Linked DNA regions of Homo sapiens. The protein of the gene in region 2 purifies or fractionates together with the protein of the main gene of each other region. This does not show direct contact. Each region holds a gene or a part of one and is shown on either strand. Other genes may lie near its edges.

Region 1 (6,880 bases), on a different chromosome or scaffold from region 2:
GCATATAAACCGCTCAACCTAGTTCCTTAACACTAATAGCCCAATGAATAGTAGCTGCTGCTATCATGATGTTAATGTTAGCAAATCATTTGACTATGTCACTAATGATGTAATAATTTAAAAAAAAAACAGAGTACCATACAGTATTTGTTATGTGCCAAACACATTCTAAGTGTTTTACATACAATATCACATTGACACCCTCTACAAGGTAGATGTACTAGATTTAATAGTGTCCCCCAAAATCCATGTCAGTCGGGAACCCCAGATCCTTATTTGCAAATAGGGTCTTTACAGATGTAATCAGGTTAAGATGGTCAGACAGGATTAGGTGGGCCCTAAAGCCAATGAATAGTGCTCTTTATAAGGAGAGAAATATTTCAAGACACAGAGAAGATACAGGGAAGAAGGCCATGGGAAGATGGAGGCAGAAATTGCAGTTATGCTGTCATAAGCCAAGGAATTCCAAGGATTGCTGGTAACTGCCAGAAGCTATTTGGTTGGTACAAAAGTAATTGCTGTTTTACTTTTAATGGCAAAACTAGAATCTAGACACATGAGTGTGTTTAGGGATGAGGGAAGACGATAACAATACAGCTCATCGTCCTTTGATTCCTCTTTCACCTGGGATCGATCCTCTTCCCAAACATGAAGAGGGTTTTCCTTGGGTTATATTTGCCCTCAAATTTCCTCATTCAAAAATAATCTGTTTGCTGGGTGCAGTGGCTCACGCCTGTAATCCCAGCACTTTGGGAGGCCGAGGCGGGTGGATCACGAGGTCAGGAGTTCAAGACCAGCCTAGACAACACGGTGAAACCCCGTCTCTACGCAAAAAAATACAAAAATTAGCTGGGTGTGGTGGCACGCACCTGTAATTCCAGCTACTCGGGAGGCTGAGGCAGGAGAATGGCTTGAACCCAGGAGGCGGAGGTTGTGGTGAGCCGAGATCGTGCCACTGAACTCCAGCCTGGGCGACAGAGTGAGATCCATCTCAAAAAATAATAATAATAGTCTGTTTTACCACCTAGTCTCAGTGGCCAAGGGCTGCAGGAAAATACTCCAAATATACAATGTATGAAAATTGTTTTCTTCGTTCACTCCATTAGACTGAAATTTTGAGGGTAGAGACTGTTTTACCTGTTTAAGGGTGTTCTCAACCCCTAGTAACAAATATGTAGAAAACCAGCTCCTAGGAGATCTTACTGAGTTAGTAAGGAAGCATCAACTTCGGAGACAAACACTAGTAGACATTTAATTCAAAACAGGATCAGATCATGAAACGGAATAGAAAGTCCAAAACAGGCAGACAGAGGGACAGACAGACAGACACACACACACACACACACACCACTGATTTTCTTTTTCTTTTTTTTTTTTTTTTTTTTTTTGAGACAGAGTCTCGCTCTTTAGCCCAGGCCGGAGTGCAGTGGCACTATCTCCGCTCACTGCAAGCTCCGCCTCCCGAGTTCACCCCATTCTCCTGCCTCAGCCTCTCGAGTAGCTGGGACTTATAGGCGCCCGCCACGGCGCCCGGCTCATTTTTTGTATTTTTAGTAGACACGGGGTTTCACCGTGTTAGCCAGAATGATCTCGATCTCCTGACCTCGTGATCCGCCCGCCTCGGCCTCTCAAAGTGCTGGGATTACAGGCGTGAGCCACCGCGCCCGGCCCCCACTGATTTTCAACAGAGATACAAAGGCAATTCAGTGAAGAAATGAGAGTCTTTTCAACAAATGGTACGTAAACAACTGAATAACAACTGCATAATCATACGGGGGGAGGGAAGAGTTTCACTCTATACCTATGGGAGGCAGAAATGCCCTCCCCAAGAGGTCCACACCCTAATCCCCTCAAACCCCTAACGTGTTAAGAGAGTAAAAAGACAAATCACAGACTGTGAAAAATGCATGCAAATCACATATCTGATAAAGGATTTTTCTCCAGAATGTATAAAGAACTCAAAACTCAAAAACAGCCCGGCCAAGTTCTCACGCAAGTATAAAGGCCTCAGGAAAACATCTTTAAACATACAAAAATCCAAGAATTAAAGTGCCTTAAAAATTTAAAACTGACCTTAAGCCCAGCCAATAAAGATGTAAATCAAAACAAAATAAAACAAAAAACCCCTCAACAACAGGAAAATAAAATACAAACAAAAAAATGGGCAAAAGTTTTAAATAGACACTTCACCAGAGAAGATACATGGATGGCAAATAAGTACAGGAAAATATGTTCAAAATAATTAGTCATGGAAAAATGAAAATTATAGCTGCAGAAGATATTACTACCCAAGTCTTGGCAAAGATGTGGAGCAACTGGAACTCTGGTGGGAATGCAAAATGGTGTCACCACTTTGGAAAACAGTTTGTCAGTCTGCCAAAAAGTTAAACGTGTTTTTACCGTACAATCTAGCCATTCTACTCCTAGGTATGTACCCAAGAGAAATGAAAGCATTAAGGTCTACACACCTATGCAAAGACTTGCAAATGAATGTCCATAGCAGCTTTATTTGTAACATCCCAAAACTGGAAGCAATCCAAATGTCCATCAACAGATGAATGGATAAACAAACTGTGGGATGGCCATACAATGGAATAGCTATCCAGCATCAAAAATAAATGAATTATTGATAACACAACAACAGATGGACTTCAAAATAGTCTATGTGAAAGAAGCCAGGCAAAAAAAGGGGGTACACACTATATGATTCAATTTATATAAAATTCAAGGAAATGAAACTAATGTTGAGTGACAGAAGGTGGATCAGTGCCTGGGAAATGGGGTCTGGGAGAGGCAGGAGGGAGAGATTACACAGGAGCTGGAGGAACCTTTTCAGGGCAATGGAGCTTTACTATCTTGATTGTGACAGTGGTTTATGGGTGTATTCATATGTCCAAAGTTATCAAATCCACTGCTTTAAATGTGTGGTTTATTGTATGCCATTTATATCTCGAAAAAGCTGTTTTTAAAATACAGTAAGAGAATTTTTCATATTTAAAAGGCAGGATATTTAAACTATATTAAATATATAAAAGACAGTGGTACTAACAGGTTGTATTAGCAGGAGACAAGGGTAAGGTGGGGTTTCTTTGGCTGCCTTGCAAAGAAATGCTGAGTCAAGTAAGGGCCAGTGGGCAACGAGGGCGGAACCACTTGTCCCCTTGGTCACCTGAGGGATGTGGATGGGAGCTGGGTGGAAATGGGGGGTGAGAGGAACGCCGCCCCCAAAGAAGAGTCGGGGCAGGGGCGCCCAACGCTGGGGCCCAGGCAGGTTCTTCGTCCTCACTTCCTGACCCTTTCTCAAGAGTCTAGGGACCAAATGGATCCATCCTTGGAGCCTGCTTTCTACTTCTGAACACAATGAGCAGTTTGTGTTTGAGGGTTTGGGGAGGGGGTGTTGTTTTTTCTTTATGTTTTGTTTTTTGTTTTGTGTATGAGTTGGGTGGCATAACCCACACGTAAGCTGCGACGTCCAATCAAGAACGAAAATGACCCCTCACAATCAGTGATCGGGAACCACCTGCCACAATCACTAGGGAAGTGACACAGCCGGGAAACTCCGCCCCTCACACCCCCGCGCGCTCGCGCCGGCCGCAGCCCCACAGCTCGCCCCGGCCGCAGCCCCACAGCTCGCCCCGCCTCTCTCCTTCCGGAAACAATCCCCGCGCGGGCGGAAGGCGGGGTCGGCCCTGGCCCCGCCCACATCATTTCCCTTCCTCGGCCCAGCCCCACAGCGCGCAGCTTCGGCAGGGTGGCTTTACGGCCGGAGGAGAGGGTGGGTCCCAGACCTGAGGTAGGAGGCCGAGCTGAGGGGCGGGGAAGAGGCTTTTTGCGGCAGGACGTAAGTGACGGCGAAGGCGGTGCGACAGCAGCTGGAGGGCAGAGGAGGCGGGTTTGTGTTTCCCGGGCCGAACCGGGTTGTGGGGGGCGCGGGGCCTGGGCCAGGCGGCAGCTAAGGCCCGCGGTGACAGCATGGGTGAAGGGGAGCGGGGCAGAGGAGGCCTTGGGCTGTTTTCGGCGGCGGGTGGGGGCGAGGGGCTGGCGGGTCAGAGTCCCGGGTCCAGGCCGGGGCTCTGACTCGCGGTTGGTGTTCCCCCGACCCCGCAGCGCGGGGTGTCCTGTCCTCGCCATGAGGCCGCAGCAGGCGCCGGTGTCCGGAAAGGTGTTCATTCAGCGAGACTACAGCAGTGGCACACGCTGCCAGTTCCAGACCAAGTTCCCTGCGGAGCTGGAGAACCGGGTACGCAACCTGGCTCCCCACGCCTGCTCTGGCGAGGGAGAGAGACTCACCGGGGACGGGAAGGGTGTGGGCGACAACCGGGCCTTTGAGGGTCCCGCAGTTCTGGGGAGGTCCAGGCACAGAAGGGGCCTTGGCCAAACGTGTAAGAAGAGAGCCACTAAGCAAGACAGGTGTTTGGAGCAGGAAGAATAATATAGGCCGATCGCCGGGGTTGACGACCTTATGGAACTTTGTTGCCCGGTGCCGGGAATCTGGATCCAGCAGTGTTCCCCTGCTGCACTCCCCCAAATCCCCACCCCGGGTTATTGTCGGCAGCGATGAGGAGCCAATTCCTGAGGCTCCAGGTCGTCTCAGTCACCAGGTTGTAAACTATATCCTCCTACCTCTCCGCGCAAGATAAATCATCATCATTCTCGTGACTGGTGTTTGCTGCCTCTGTGCTGGCCGCACTGTTTGGCTGAAAGGGTTTATTAGGTGCATGGCCAGGCGGTGCGTTCAGGCTTTCTTGGAACCTTAAAGACGTCGGGCGTTAGATAGGCCTGGACAGGAAAATGTCTCAGAACAAGGCCTTAAACTTGTCACATTCACTGGGAGCCACCTGTTTTGTCTTGCATATCAAAATGGTCATCAGGATATAGGTCCTTTGGGCAACATTGCAGGCAAAAATGGAAGAATGGGATTTGCTTCCCCTTCAGACCTAGCAAAACTTTAAAAAAAAAAAAAAAATCATTGTATCTTGTTGTAGAGGTAATGGAGTGTGTGCGTGCCTGCCTGTGTTTTTGTGTGCCCACATATGTACATTCAACCAAAGATTCTTTTGGTCTTGACCCATGTTATGTAGATTGTGTTTCCCGTTCAGGGATCAATTTCTGGTTAGCTGGAAGCAGGTTTTGTGGCTCTCTCCTCTGTGACAGGGAGGACGAGGGCCTGAGAGGTGATTAGGCATTCCTTGGGTGTGGGACTGAGAGATGCTGGTCATGGGATAAGTGGGTGTGGATGAGTCTGTGTAGAGAAATGTGTAGCAGTTATTTACAGTCAGTTTGCAGTGAGGTGGGTTGCACTGCCCGATTTCCATGGTTGGGAAATCAACAATGATCCATTATAGTTTCCTTCAGTTTGACATAACCATGGGCAGCTTCATGGCCCAAATATGTTTCTTGAATTGCAAATGGATCAAATATGCCTTTAAAAGATGGTGAGGTGACTTGTTTCTGAAATGCCATTTAAATGCTGCAGTATGTTGTCAACTATGTTATGAGTTAACTGAGCGTGACAATAGGTGGAACTATCTACAGTGGTTTGAAGAGGTAGAAATTCAGCAAGTGGCCAGTTGGGTAGAGCTACTGAATGTTGTTTTAAAATAATTTAACATCACAATTGATGTGTTTTACATGTTAAGATTGACATGGAATCTGGCTGGGCCCGGTGGCTCACGCCTGTAATCCCAGCACTCTGGGAGGCCGTGGCGGGTGCATCACTTGAGGTCGGGAATTCAAGACCAGCTTGGCCAACATGGTGAAACCCCATCTCTACTAAAAATACAAAAATTAGTCAGGCATGGTGGCGGGCACCTGTAATCCCCGCTACTCAGGAGGCTGAAGTAGAAGAATTTCTTGAACCTGGGAGGCGGAGGTTGCAGTGAGCCGAGATCATGCCATTGTACTCCAGCCTGGGCGACAGAGCAAGACTCTTGTCTCAAAAAATAAATCAAATAAAAAGATATACATGGAATCAATCAAATGTTTTATTTTTAAGCCTCTTACGGAAACTATGACATACAATTTATGTACTTCAAAATCAGAATATAAAGTATTCTTTTTTTACCACAATTATTTGGACATTAAAGATTCCTTTGCTTTAAGGTTTTAAAGCAACACTTACACCTCATATATTTGAGCTAAATGTGTATACACAGAATCAGACATTAGCCTTCCACTCTGTGTGTGGCAGAGCCTTTATTTTGTAATCTAAGTGCAAAAGCACAATGTAGTTACTGTGCTCCACTGATTCTTGTCAGGAAATTGATGTTTCTAAATTCTGGAGTCCTTTTACCTCTTTGACTCTGTATAGCCCAGAACTGCTTGTGGTACTGAGTACTATATGGAATGTTACATGGCACTCTTCAATTGTGCCTTTGAATTTCTTTTTTCTTTTTAAATGTTTGGGTTAAAACACTAGCTTATGCTTTAAACCACTAGAAAAGCTTTGATTGTCTGTGTATGTGTGTTGAGATTAAATTTAAATTACAGGTTTAAACTTTCCTTGCTTTGATGAAAAATTGAAAGGTTTCTGTTTCTCTACTACTTACCCTAGAAATTTTACTGATTGCTCTGCTATTGGAGCTGATTTTCCTTTTGTGAGAACATCACACTTGGCAACATAATAGAGAAAGTGACTAATATGCAAGTGTTTTGTATTATTTTAAAGCATTTTTTAAAAATACACACACATTTGTGCCCTTTAATTTGGGAGTAGGATAGGTTCTGTCTGTTAACAAGTTCATTTTCTCTGCTGCCTTTTAGAATGTAATACTTTGATGCTTAAGCGATTTGTTGCCAGAACAATTCCTTAAAGGAAACTTTATTCTCATTAGCCTTAAAATACAGATATCTTAGTTACCCTTGGTCTGGGTAGAAGAAT
Region 2 (6,885 bases):
TCTTCTTCCAGTAGAATTATAAACTGTAAAATTTTAGAGCTTCAAGTGGTGTTAATGATCATTAGTACAACTGTTTTACTAAAGAGGACCCTAGGGTCCAGAAAGGGGTCATTAACCAAAGATCCATTGATAATTTTTAAATAAAGGATAATTTAAACTTAAACTTCTCATTTACATATGGGTCATTCACTGTCTTTCAGAAGCATGGGCATCTAAAAATTATAGTTTTTTACTATATGTGGCACTTTACAGGAATTACTAAAAAAAAAAAGGAGACATTTTAGGTGCACTTTTCTATTTGCCTTGATCTTGATTCTGTTATTGTTCTACAGTGAATGGGTGCAAGGAAATTCAAAGATAGGTACATTTTTAAAAATGGTTTTTGGTTGGAACCCAGAATTGTACATATTCCCATTTTTTTCCTTTCTGAACTCCAAAGTTCACAAGGGAAACAACCAGAAAAAAAATTACATGAAGAAACATAATGTAAATATATCTTATAATGTAGATATAACTTTTAGTTCCTAAAAATGTGCAATTAAAAATAAAATATTAAATGTATTGGGGAATTTAGTATTGATGGAAATTCTAGTGTGAAGGGTTGTTTCATAAGTACATAATAAAAACAAGTTACAACATCTGAGTATCTAGATTTTCAGTTATCGGTTTTATTTTAAATGTGCTATAACTATAATGCCTTCCGGTTGAAACTAGAACCATCTTTAACAAGTTAAGCTAGATGTCTCATTTAACTTCGCTTTTAAACCTAAATTCCATAATCTCTACATGGTTGCACAAAATCATCTTTCATATTTGTGAAAATATAAGGCTAGCTACCGTTTCTCAAACAGCAGAGTAAGAAGCAGAAGTAGAAATTTAGCTCCATTAATTAATTAAGGATTTATTTTACCTACTCATACAACAAGCAAGCATAAATAGAAATTAGGAAACACCAAAGATGCAGAGATAAACCAGAAATACGGTTGTGTGGTTGGTGAAACTGGGTGTGAAGAGGCCGTTCAGGTCCTCTCTCAGGATGATCAAAACCACAAACACGTAGAGACACCTCCAGGTTCACACTAGGTTGGTCAGTGAAATGCGTCCTGAGTGTTTTCTAGGCATTCTGAAGACTTGAAGGGTGCAAGTGTCATCCTCCTTTGCAGGTCTTCCCAGAAACATCCACCTCCTGAGTCATGGCGACTTGTGTATGATACGATCCCAGGCCTGGGAATCTCCTGAGAAGGGTTAAACAGGGATGCCCAAAATACTAGCCCTGGCAAATTTTTCCTAGTCATTTGGTGGTTAGTCCAGAGCTTCTCAAACCTGCTGAAGCGAGCAGGAACACCTCTCTGTATAAATGGCTTATCTCCATTTAGGGGTAGCCTCTAGGGTTAATCCAGGAGCTTTAAAAGCTGTCTGTCTTTTTCTGTCCTGTTTTTCCCGGTCGCCGCACGCTGTCCCGGTCCGCGCCTGCTCCCTGCGTGCCTTGTCGCCATGCCTCCGAAAATTGAGGAAATCAAGGACTTTCTGTTCACAGCCCAATGAAAGGATGCTGAATCTGTCAAGATCAAGAAAAATAAGGACAATGTGAAGTTTAAAGTTCGATGCAGCAGATATCTTTATACCCTGGTCATCAGTGAAAAAGAGAAGGCAGAAAAACTGAAGCCAGTCCCTGCCTCCTAGTTTGGTAGTGAAGGAGTTGAAATGAACCAGCCACACTGATTTGAACTGTATTAGAATACAAAAAAAAAAAAAAAAAAAGACTGTTCTCACTAAGCTTACTCAAATATTATATTCAACAAATATTTGCAAATACTAATAACTTAATGATTCTTTCCTAAACCTCAGGTCCTGTGCTGGGCGTTTTATATGTTTTTCTCAATCTTCACAATGATCATGTGGGATAGATGCTACTGTCAACATCCATATTTTGGAGAAAAGACAACCGAGACTTAAAGAAGGTTAATTCTCCAAAGTCACAAAATGAGTATATTCAAGTGTGTTACCATGGTAGTCAGTTACTCTAATATCCAAGTTTGCTACCAAGTCAGTTACTCTCTCTAGTTCCTTTATCTGTAGACTGAAGTTGTTTCTTCTCTCTCCTTTAAACTTCTCTTTTGCCTGGTTTACTGACCACATGATCTCAGTGGAGAGGTAAATCTGAAAGTGGGGAATTTCTTTTTTTGAGGCAGAGTCTTGTTCTGTCGCCCAGGCTGGAGTGCAGTGGCGTGATCTTGGCTCACTGCAAGCTCCGCCTCCCGGGTTCATGCCATTCTCCTGCCTCAGCCTCCCAAGTAGCTGGGACCACAAGCGCCTACCAACACGCCTGGCTAATTTTTTTGTATTTTTAGTAGAGACGGGGTTTCACCGTGTTAGCCAGGATGGTCTCGATCTCCCGACCTCGTGATCTGCCGCCTCGGCCTCCCAAAGTGCTGGGATTACAGGCGTGAGCCACCATGCCCGGCGGAAAATAGGGGATTTCTAATGAAGGCCAATGGATGAAGACATTTCCTGGAGTATAAGGGCATTTATGTGTCTTACTACACATTGACAATTTGCCTGTGCCTCTCCATCACTTTCTCTAGTTGGTGCCTCTGACAAATTTTTTTTTGATTATATGCTGTATATGAAAATCCAGAGTCATGTTTGAATATATTTGGCTACTACCTTATTATGTGCTGCATATGAATATCAGTTTCACCCACTCAGGTCAAAGAAATGTAAGTACAGATAGAGAAACATATCATGCCTTTAATCTGTCAAAGTGGTAGAAATTTAATATCAACTTGCAGCTCCCATCTTTCTCCTATGCTAAATTACAAGGCATTAGGGGACAGAGTGGGGGTTTGAGAGCCCCTCTGGTCCTTGAGTCAGCTTTCTCTGTCGGTTACTGTTGAGAAATCCACCATTTGCTGGTCCCAGGCCACGTTAATAGTTCCACTCATGTTATTGTTAAGATGTCCCTGCTTCCTGTCCATGAATTTCTGTGTTAAACCTGAGGGTTCAGAATCATTGTTGCCCCTGTGCCACACATCATCTGCAATCTCCAATGCTGTCCATGACCTTATCTGCTTGAGTGATGTTCCCCAAATTTCAGTCTTTTTCCTACTATACCCACAATTTTTTATTCATTTTTTGACATATCTGGTATCCTCAGTATTATTAACTTAATAGTTTTTAAAATAAGTGAAAAGAATTTAAAAGGAACAACATTGCTGCAATAGAAAACTAGTATCACTTGTCATAAAAAGAAGGCAGCTACAAACACATTTTATGAAACCCAAATAATATCATTACATTCTTGATGGATACTGTCTGCCAGGTCACATACTTCTTAGCCTAAACTTATGCAATAAAACCAGAAGGATGCTCTGCTCCAATGGGAGGGATTCTGGGAGAGGGAAATAAAATGGGTCAACGTTTCACAAGTAGAATCCCATTTTTGTTCATTTATACTTAGATCTAGAGGCAGGGTGGTGTGATAGGGAAAGCACAGGCCTAAAAGTCAGATCTAAGTTATACAAGTCACGGTCATTGACTCGAGATGACCGGAAACAGGCCCGCTTTACTTTCTGGACCATTCTCCCTTCCTCCCTAAAATGCAAGAATCCAACAGCCTAGACTTCCCTTCTGCGTACCGGCTTGCCCTGAGGAGCTGAACTACATCTCCCACAATGCGCCGCGCGCGGCGCCAGGAATGCCTATCGCCGCCTCAGACAGCTTTCAGTCTGTCCCTCCTACAACTCCCACAAGGCCCCTCGGCCCCGGGCCGCGGCCCGGCCCGGAGTGGGGGCGGGCGGAGGCGCGGGAGTTATGGAGGGGGCGGGCTCTGCAGGGAAGTGCGTCAGAGGAGGCGCGGGGAGAGTAGGGTGCTGTGGTCTGAGCTAGAGGGTGAAGCTGGCGGAGCAGGAGGATGGGCGGTGAGTGAGCGGGACCTGCGTCGCCGGGCAGGGGTCGCGTCGCGGTTCCATGTTCCCGGCGGTTTGAAGAGGGGCCCCCTTCCCGGGCGTGGTCGGGCTGGGCGGGTTCCGAGCGGCGGATTTGTCCCAGGGCCGAGCCCTCTAGGGCGGGGCCTGGTCGGGTACCGGGGGACCCTGGCCCGGGGCCGAGCACGGCTGCCCCGCCCCAGCCCTGGCCTTCTCCGGCCCCGCCGTGAGGCCCAGGAGGTGGCTGCTGCAGGCGTCCGGCTTGGACGAACCGCCGTTCCCAGTGCTGGGACCCTTTAAGGTCATTTGAGAGCACCAGGATGAAGGGGGGATTTTTAAAAAATCAAAATACAAATCCAACTTTTTGAGTTTTCGTTGTCATTGCTCTTATCTTTCCTGAGTCACTTCCCATTTTCCAAACTCAGCAACCCCAGTTTGCGAGTCTGTTTTCATGAACCTTTGTAAGGTGTTTGGTGCGGTCACGGTGTATACTTGCCGTGTAGTATTTGACTCAGCGCGATCTGCCTTGAGTCATTTTACCGCGGCCATTTACTACTGCCGTTGAGCCCTGTCCACGCCTTGGGAGTGTTGATATGTTGAGAGTTTTCTGTCTGGCTGAGGAGGGATCATTTAGTTTTTGCGGACGTATGTTGCACTGAGGATTTAGGGAGAGAGCAAGATTTCTGTTGAGGAGGTTCAGAAGTATAAGGAATCGGGAGAGTAGATAGGAGTGAAGCATTTGGCAGCGTAAAGAAGCTTGGCTTAGCTTTAATGGATTAGGGAGAGATTGCTATCTAGCATTATTACATGTTATTGTTCTCTTTGCTATTTTATACACCTAGAACAACCTTTCCCTCGGGGTTAACAAACATCTTCAACTCTGTTTTCTGTATGGCTCCTGACTCTTACCTTTGTTTTAGGAGGCTTCCCTCTTCAGAGGAAACTGGGAGAAGCCAATTTCCACTGCTTCTTTTTCCTGTGCCTTTTTAACACTCAAACCCAGAACACTTAATCCTCTGCAGCTCGTGCAAAAATTCAGTCTGTAATTTAAAATGTGTGCACGGTACACTGCTGACCATGGGCATGTCTATTGTTTGTATCTGTAATGTGTATGTCCATTTCAGTGTTGTCTGTTTTAGTATGCAGGTGATAGACTAGAGAACAAGACCTCTGTCTCCGTAGCATCCTGGGTATGTGAGCATTCAATAAGTACTTTTATGAGAATGAGTTTTGTTTTAAGCTTAATTAAAAACATGCTTGCTTTCTAAAAAAAATTCTTAATGGTTATATGTACGAAGGGATGGGGAATTGGGTAAAGGGTGCATTTGGAATAATTCAAAATAATCTTTCTTATTTGTCCGTAAACTCTAACTTATCTTCTTTCTTCAACTTCTAAACAGAGCAGTCTGAATGCCAGAATGGATAACCGTTTTGCTACAGCATTTGTAATTGCTTGTGTGCTTAGCCTCATTTCCACCATCTACATGGCAGCCTCCATTGGCACAGACTTCTGGTATGAATATCGAAGTCCAGTTCAAGAAAATTCCAGTGATTTGAATAAAAGCATCTGGGATGAATTCATTAGTGATGAGGCAGATGAAAAGACTTATAATGATGCACTTTTTCGATACAATGGCACAGTGGGATTGTGGAGACGGTGTATCACCATACCCAAAAACATGCATTGGTATAGCCCACCAGAAAGGACAGGTATTTCTCTTATTTTAACTTCTGTCTTCTTCACCTGGTTAATAATAGACAAAACGACGTAATGATTGCCCAATTACATGTAAGCAGGTTTGTTGGTTCTCTCTCTCCTTAAAGAAATAAATCGTGTATCTTCTCTTTCTACTGCCTTCTCTCCCCAACTTCTTTGCATTACCATGGTACTCATCAATATTGGTTGGATGAGGAACTTTTCTTATCTTGGGAAAGCCTTAATGGCTTTTTTTTTTCTTATTTACTCACTCATTAAAATACTTTTCATTACTCTAACACATGTTATAAAGAAATAGTTGGAAAAGTACATCGAAAGACTTTTAAAAATATTTGGTAACTAGTAAAAGGACTACCATCGAAAATCAACTCAAAAAATTGTCCTTTTATGGGTTAGCTGTATTATAATACATATCTATCATTTGCCCCTGTGTCTTAGAGGATATAATTTGACCAGCTCTACATTTAATCTGTGTAATTATGAGACTGTTTTACAACAATCTTGATGCAGAGTTGGTAGGTTAAGAAATTTGTATTACAGAAGTTAAAAAAAAAAAACCAAAAACTAGATTTTTAGGTTTATTTTACAGGCATTCTTATTTAACACTTAAAGATTTTGATTTCCAGTTATTAAAATGGTAGCTTTAGAACTCTTTGTAAGGAACAACTTTACAGTTTATTTATGACTACTTCTGTTGGCCCCTTAGTGGGGAAGCATTGTATTCAAATCATAGCAGAACAGGCTTGAGTTATGATATATCAAAAGGATGATAATATGTCACTGTATCTGGAAAAAAAGATAATTTGGAAGGAAAGGAGAGAAAGTTGGTTAAAATTCATTGTAAAATGTTCAGTTTGACTTATGAGGTTACAGGAGCACTTGATATTGAAATTGGAGTTGGAATTGGAGTGTTACCATTTAGTCATTCATTAAACAAATAATTTATTGCATGTCTCCATGTTCCAGGGCCTCTTAGCTGGGAGAACATCAGGAAAGAACAAAATCCTTACTCCTGGGGAGCTAGCATTCTAATAAAGGATGACAGGCAGTGAACAGAATATAACAGTATAAACAGAATAAATAATTATTCAGTATGTTAAAAGATGACATGTGCTATGGCAAAATAGAACACAAAAGGGATTTGGAAATATGTGGGAAAAGGAATATTGGTGGCCATAGGTTATGATTTTCAATAGGATACTTAAAGTAGGTCTCATTGAGAAGACACCACTTGAGTAAAGA
Region 3 (7,512 bases), on a different chromosome or scaffold from region 2:
GGTTCAGAACTCAAGAGGTCACATGCCCCTCTGGTGACACAAACCCTTTCTACCTTTTCATCCACTACCTGCCCAGAGATGATAACTTGGAATCTGCAAGCCAAAAATTTTAAGTTAGAATTTTAAAAGAAAGTAGTTTTATTCCCTTCTCTACTAAAAATACAAAAATTAGCCGGGCGGGCGCCTGTAGTCCCAGCTACTCAGGAGGCTGAGGCAGGAGAATCACTTGAACCCAGGAGGCGGAGGTTGCAGTGAGCCACTGCACTACAGCCTGGGCAACAGAGCAAGACTCTGTCTCAAAAAAAAAAAAAAAAAAATCAGAAGATTCAGATAACAAAATATAAATGTGCCCTATAATGTACCACTTCCTCTCTCACCTATGGCATGGAAGGCAAAGGTGCCTTCCCTTACGATTCATTTCTCTCTTTAAAATTAGGGTTTCAGAGGGCCAAACAGCAGTATTAGAATACAGTGAGCGCCAAAAGATTCTAAGAAACTGTTATAGTCCTAGAAAACATAAATCCTCTCTAGTCCCTGATTTAATGATTATTTAACTCTCAGTTTCCTACAGGAATGGAAGCCTAACATTTGGAATGTAGGCCTCAGTAACTTTGTTAACAAAAGCAAACTCTTGATTTGTAGACAATATGTACTTTTTTTTTTTTTTTGAAACACAGTTTCCCTCTGTCACCCAGGCTGAAGTGCATGGTGTGATCTCAGCTCACTGCAACCTCCGAGTCCCGGATTCAAGCAATTCTCCTGTCTCAGCCTCCCGAGCAGCTGGGATTACAGGAGGGCACCACCACACCCAGCTAATTTTGTATTTTTAGTAGAGATGGGGTTTCACCATGTTGCCCAGGCTGGTCTCGAACTCCTGACCTCCAGGTGATCTGCCTCCTCACCCAAAGTGCTGGGATTACAGGTGTGAGACACTCTGCCCAGCCAATATGTACTATTAAAGCAAACTTTTCCCTCAAAATCCCAAAGACTAGAAAAGATGGAAAATTATACTACTTAAATTTTATCTAGAGTAGAATATCATTTAGATACTATATATTGTTTCATATATTTTCCACAGGAAAAAAGTCACATGGACTAATATTGACATAGTAATACAGAGTCATGAAAGGCCATGCAATTTTGGGAGTATAATACTGGGAACACAAAAGAGAACAGCATCTGAGATGCTTGGGGGCTACACAGTAGAAGGGAAATCAAAAACCTAACAATTTATTGGGTATAAATAAAGATGAACCAATTCTTAGCAAAAGAATGTGCTGCAGATACTAGGATGAAACCACAAGGGTGAGTATGGTTCATCAGAGTCAACAGTTTGAATCCATACTAGTATCAAAAAAGTATACAAGAATATGTATGCCAGCTGGGCACGGGGGCTCACGCCTGTAATCCCAGCACTTTGGGAGGCCGAGGCGGGCGGATCATTTGAGGTCAGGAGTTCGAGACCAGCCTGGCCAACATACCAAAACCCTGTCTCTACTAAAAATACAAACAAATGAGCAGGGCGTGATGGGGCATGCCTGAAATCCCAGCTACTAGGGAGGCTGAGACACGAGAATCGCTTGAACCCGGGAGGTGGAAGTTGCAGTGAGCCAAGATAGCAGCCACTGCACTCCAGCCTGGGCGACAGAGCCAGACTCCGTCTCAAAAATGAGAAAAAAAGTAATATGTATGCCATATTGAGGCACAGAGTAAACTATGAAATGGAAATATGTATATGTAAAACAAACAATACAGGATATGTGGTTTGAAGGCTTTAATAAGGTTTAATACAGGTATTTCCTTAAATAGGTGGATACCAGCAGTACCAAGGACAACACAACTATTTTTTGTTGAAATAAGCGGTGTAACAGTACAATAGAGTAAATCTAAATGCACAGTAATGGAGGTACCATGGAATAATTCACATGTCAAGGTATGGGAGAAAGAGCCAAGAAGTTTAATGTGGGTGTTATCATTATATACCGAGGTAGCAAAATACATGGCAATATAATTTTGTAAACATTAAGTTTATACAATGGGTGATAATGAGCATTCTGAAGATATTTGATCCAGGACAGAGGTATACTGAGATAGAAGGATGATATGCAAATGTTAGATCAACTTGGTCAAGATGGCATTAACCAGGAAGTGAAGAATCCAAGGCAAAAAATAGTCTAGCGTATAACGTATATGTGATCCTACAACTGCCTTCCTAACTTTTAGCAACTTTCTTACTTCTTATTTCAGTGTTTCATTTGGCCAAGTGGGTAAAACACTTTCCACCTGCCTGCCCCAAATATAGGTAAAATATTGACAAACGCATTCGGGCTCCACTTTAAAAAGTACAAAGTACTAAACGCATGGAGCACTCGGCTGGTGGCGGTAGGAGGAGGAAGCGGACGGGTGAGAGAGAACAGGTAACAGGATGAAGCTTGAGCCAAAATAAGTATCAGCAGAGTGGAGCGAGGGACTCGAACCGCAGAGCGGTAAAAGGGAAACAGCACCCGGTCCCCACCACGGGACTGGGGAAAGGAGAATCACCCGTTGGGGCAGGGCTGACGACCGCTGAAACCGAAAAGAAGGAATCCACGGCGGCCAGGCCCACCGAGGTTGAGAGAGCGGGCTGCGGGGACCGCAGAGCCCGAGGGCGCAGGGCCGGGGGCGGAAGGGGCGGCGGCTGGGCGCCAGGCACCGGGGACCGCGGTCTCGAGCTGAGTGGCCGTCTCTAACCCGTTCCGAGCCCTGGCGGTCGTGGATCCCCGGCCTCTACTCGTCGTCCGTTTCCAAGGCCCATGGGTCCCGCCGCGGTTGGAAGACCCGGCCCGGAGGAGAAATAGGGCCTTAATACCCTCCCCGTCTTCGGTCCCCCTTCCCTAGAGGTCACCCTCCCCTCCCACCTCGCTGGTACGGCACTTCCGGTTCCGCAGGGACCGGTGTCCTCCGCACTCACCCGCGAGCCCGGTGCCCGTCACCACCGCCGTCGTTGTCACCGCCGCCTCCCGGCAGTGCCGTCCTGCCTCAGAGAAGCAGCGCGCGGCCCCCGCACGCTCCACGCCCGCCCCGCTGCCGCGCGCTCCCGCCAGGCGTCGCTCGTCTCGGAGCCGGCGCGCGGCCGTTGCCCTCAGTGCCGGGTCTCGAACCCTTCCAGCGTTCCCATTGGCTCCCTAGTCCGGGCTCGCGCGACGTCTCGCGCGGCGCACGTTTGTCTCATTCATGCGGCTCGCGCTGCCGCGCCCAACCCCGCTCACTCTCCCATTCACCCATAGCCCCCACCCCGACTCCGATCTGGGGCGTGCGCGCGAACCCTGGCGACCGCGGCGACCTCGCGGCCTGATTGGCTGCAGCAACACAACGACGTACGCACGCGAGAAGACGAGAGCGCGCACGTAAGGCCGTGGGGTTGCGGGGACAACTAAGAGACAAGGATTGGCCTAATGCACAGGAGTCAGGAATGAGGAAATGGCCAGGCGAGTCTTCCCTTCTCCTGCGTCCTGTTGTATTCCCACTGAATCCAAGCAAAAACCCCCGGAAATAAGAAAAGAATTATGTGTGTGTACTAGAAGTACTCAAAAGCAAGCAGCTACCTTCTCGAATTCAGCAACCCCTCTCCTACTGAGGTGGTACAGTCCAGACAGGCTTCCAGCGCAGCCAATTACCGACGACTATCGCCGCTTCCTGCTTCAGCCCCTTCGCGGCGGATTGGCCAACCATTTGGCGACTAGGCCTCCCTCTTCTCCTTCCCATCTCCTTTTTTTTTTTTTTTTTTTTTTTTGATGGCAAAAACTTTATTTAAAACAATCTTGCTGGAGAAATCTTCAGTCCGGCGAGGTCGCTGGTCCGGGCAGAATCCAGGGCGATGGAATGGTCTGGGCTGTGTCTCCCACATGAAGGGGACGCCCGGACTTGAAGAGCCAATGTAGGGCGAGGCTCCTGCCAAGGGCCGGGGAGGGAGATGAAGAAGAGCAGGCGCCAGCCTTGGAGCCGTAGCGCTAACCGTGAGAGGGAAGCCTAAGGAGCGCGCGACCTGAGGCGGTGGCAGCACCCTCCCGCCCCCGGAGTGCGAGCCGGGAAGTGAACTCCCTGAATTCCATTAGTTTCCCACTGTCACACGTGGGATGGGCGCCCGCATCCCTCACCTCACCCAATCCTAGAATACAAAGCTAAAAGCAAAAGGTTCTCTAGAATAGCTACTGTCCCTGGCGAGCTAACTCTGCATAGGTCATAGTGCTACGCTTTGCCCTGATTAGCCCAAGACAGCTGTGAACCCAATAGCAATGCCCCATGTTCTCTCCCCATTCGGCTCGAGGCTATTTCTTTTTTCGAAAGCAACTCTAGCTATTACATAATGGTCCCTCAAAAAGGTGTTTCACAAGCCACTTCCCTGAAGCCGAGGCCCCTCACCTGTAAAATCCTGAGGACTGTCCTCGGGTTTGGTCTCAAATGTTGCTGGCTTTACTGTGGTTCTGACACTAGCATTAGGCAGTAAGGTAAAAGAGAACTACCTTCTGTTTTCTGGAATCTAGTTCCTTCTCTGACATGGCATATATTATAAGTTCTAGTTTATTCTTGTTAACAGCGTCAATCCAGCATTTATTGCAACACACTTGAGAGTTCTTTATAACGACTTTATATTTTTAAAACAGACCTGGCCTGGCGTGGTGGTTCACACCTGTAATCCCAGCACTTTGGGAGGCCAAGGCAGGCGGATCACGAGGTCAGGTGCTCAAGACCAGCCTGGCCAACATAGTGAAACTCCCTCTACTAAAAATACAAAAATTAGTCGGGCATGGTCGGGGGAGCCTGTAATCCCAGCTACTCGGGAGGCTGAGGCAGGAGAATTGCTTCAACCCGGGAGGCAGAGGTTGCCGTGAGCCGAGACCACACAACTTCACTCCAGCCTGGGCAACAGAGCAAGACTCCGTCTCAAAACAAAACAAAAACCTCTTTAGACCATATGAAAGGTAAATTATTGAAGATACAATATTGATATTTTATTTTTTACTTTTTGAGAGGGAGTCTCACACTGTCACCCAGGCTGGAGTGCAGTGGCGCGATCTCAGCTCATGGCAACCTCCTCCCGGGTTCAAGCAATTCTCATGCCTCAGCCTCCTGAGTAGCTGGGATCACAGGCATGTGCCACCACACCTGGCTAATATTTGTATTTTTAGTAGAGATGGGGTTTCACCATGATGGCCACATTGGTCTGGAACTCCTGACCTCAAATGATCCTCCCACCTCGGCCTCCCAAAGTGCTGAGATTACCGGTGTGAGCCACAGTGCCCGGCCTGATATTGGCATTTTCTACCTGTAAGCCATGTTTCTTTAAGATGAAGTCAGCTTTCATTTTTCTGTTGCAATATTTTTCTTGGATTTTTAGACTTCCTGATTTCCTCCACAAATTAGGCATTTTTATTTTCCTTTCAGCTGTCTAAGAACTTGTAAATAGTGGTGTCTCTTGGCTAGACAGTGCTAAATGGAAAAAAAAAATCAGTCTTCCACCATCCAACCAAACTAAACTCCCCTGGGATACTAACTTGGATTGCCAAGCTTTGTTAGGTGGATGAGCACTAACAGAGGTATAATCACTATCCCAAAGTTGAAAGACAGAGATTCCACTTGTCCAGTTTTCCTTGGGATCACTCAAGATATTTCTTGGAAAGAACGTTTAATAGAACATATGGTTTAAAGTGCCAGCTACTTCTGAAAAGTATCCAGAGTAAAATCTAGGCTAAAACAGTATGATATCCAGACCACCCAAACTTTAAATTACTTTAATATGTTAATGGCTTCTCTCATCTGCGCATCTTTGTTCATCTTGCTCACCACACTCTTCGGCTGCCTGGACTTAGACCCTCAGTAGCATGGGCACCTAAGCACACAGAAAGCTAGAACATGCATTTCCCAATTTTTGTGTTTTTAGGGTTTCACCATGTTGGCCAGGGTAGTCTCCAACTGCTGAGCTCAAGTGATCTGCCTGCCTCGACCTCCCAAAGTGCTGGGATTACAGGTCTGAGCCACTGCTCCTGGTCAACCTCTTTGTGTTTAAATACTGCTCTTTCCTCCTGTCCTTGTGAAATGTCTCTGTATGTGTTAAAGGGTAGTTCTTCCCTTTGTGCTGTGGATCCTATCTCCTTCGCTCCTGCATTTTTTCTGGTGCTGGGGGATGGAGTCTTGCTCTGTTACCCAGGCTGGAGTGCAGTGACGCGATCTCAGCTCACTGCAACCTCCGCCACCCATGGACAATTAATAGCTCATATTTAACACTGCCAAAAACCTCGAGTTTCCCTTGTCCCTCAGGGGGACAACTCCCTGAGTTTTCCCAATCTCATGTCTAACCTAGTGTGTCTTGTTAAAAAAAATCCAGGATGCATCCTTGATTCCATCGTTTTCCTCACCACTCCGTTATGAAGTCCTGCCTTCAGAATATCCTCTCACCAGCTCTACCTCTGCTGCCCTAGTATTTCATCCCCCACCATTTCTCACATTTGCACTTTTACAAAACTCTCCTAATTACTGTCCTTGCTTTTACACTTGCCCTATAACCCACTCTCCACAAAGCAGTGATCTTTTCAAAATGTAAAGTAATCAGCCAGGCTAATCCCAGCACTTTGGGAGTCCGAGGCGGATGGATCACTTGAGGTCAGGAGTTCGAGACCAGCCTGGCCAACATGGCAAAACCCCATCTCTACTAAAAATACAAAAATTCGCCAGGCATGGTGGTGCATGCTACTCAGCTACTCAGGAGGCTGAGGCAGGAGAATAACTTGAACCCAGGAGGCAGAGGTTGCAGTGCACCGAGGTCATGCCACAGCACTCTAGCCTGGGCAACATAGCAAAACTCAGAAGGAGGGAAGGAAAGGGGGAGGGAAGGGGAGGAGAGAGGAGAGGAGGTGAGGGAAGGAAAGGAAAGGAAGGAATAGGAAGGAAGGGGAAGGAATGAAAAAGAGAAGAAAAAAGAGAGAAGAAAAAGAGAGCAGGAAGGAGGGAGAGAGGAAAGAGGAAAGGAAAGGAAAGGAAAAGAAAGGAAAGGAAGAAAGAAAGAGGGAAGGGAGGGAGGAGATCAGCCGGGCGTGCTGGCTTACGCCTGTAATCCCACACTTTGGGAGGCCTAGGCGGGCGGATCACCTGAAGTCGGGAGTCGGAGACAAACCTGACCAACACGGAGAAACCCCATCTATACTAAAAACACAAAATTAGCCGGGCATGGTGGCGCATGCCTGTAATCCCAGCTACTCGGGAGGCTGAGGCAGGAGACTCGCTTGAACCTGGGAGGTGGAGGTTGCACTGAGCCAGATTGCGCCATTGCACTCCAGCCTGGGCAACAAGAATGAAACTCTGTCCCCCCCCAAAAAAAAAAAGATCAAATAATTACTCTACTTAACTACCCCTCCCCTCTGGTTCCCATTGCTCTTAAGAGTAAAATCCATTCTTAAACCAGGTGCTGTGGCATGAGCCTGTAGTCCCAGCTACTCAGGAGACTAAGGTGGGCGGATCACTTAAGCCCAGAAGTTC

The links.
Region 1: the proteins of CLDND1 (region 2) and GOLGA7 purify together in Homo sapiens (affinity purification with mass spectrometry; 5 studies listed by BioGRID and IntAct, with this or other methods). This does not show direct contact.
Region 3: the proteins of CLDND1 (region 2) and ZDHHC5 purify together in Homo sapiens (affinity purification with mass spectrometry; 4 studies listed by BioGRID and IntAct, with this or other methods). This does not show direct contact.

Annotation. Positions count from the first base shown.
Region 1 is NC_000008.11:41,486,726-41,493,605, forward strand, and holds the start of GOLGA7 (golgin subfamily A member 7), read left to right. Parts: upstream 1-3,856; 5' UTR 3,857-4,129; coding exon 4,130-4,240; intron 4,241-6,880. UniProt on the Homo sapiens protein: May be involved in protein transport from Golgi to cell surface. The ZDHHC9-GOLGA7 complex is a palmitoyltransferase specific for HRAS and NRAS.
Region 2 is NC_000003.12:98,519,884-98,526,768, reverse strand, and holds the start of CLDND1 (claudin domain-containing protein 1), read left to right. Parts: upstream 1-3,866; 5' UTR 3,867-3,913; coding exon of another isoform or gene 3,914-3,920; exon of another isoform or gene 3,921-4,227; intron 4,228-5,065; exon of another isoform or gene 5,066-5,072; coding exon of another isoform or gene 5,073-5,116; intron 5,117-5,326; coding exon of another isoform or gene 5,327-5,344; coding exon 5,345-5,636; intron 5,637-6,885. UniProt on the Homo sapiens protein: Plays a role in negatively regulating the permeability of cells to small molecules.
Region 3 is NC_000011.10:57,663,626-57,671,137, reverse strand, and holds the start of ZDHHC5 (palmitoyltransferase ZDHHC5), read right to left. Parts: upstream 3,025-7,512; 5' UTR 2,951-3,024; exon of another isoform or gene 2,542-2,950; intron 1-2,541. UniProt on the Homo sapiens protein: Palmitoyltransferase that catalyzes the addition of palmitate onto various protein substrates such as CTNND2, CD36, GSDMD, NLRP3, NOD1, NOD2, STAT3 and S1PR1 thus plays a role in various biological processes including cell adhesion, inflammation, fatty acid uptake, bacterial sensing or cardiac functions.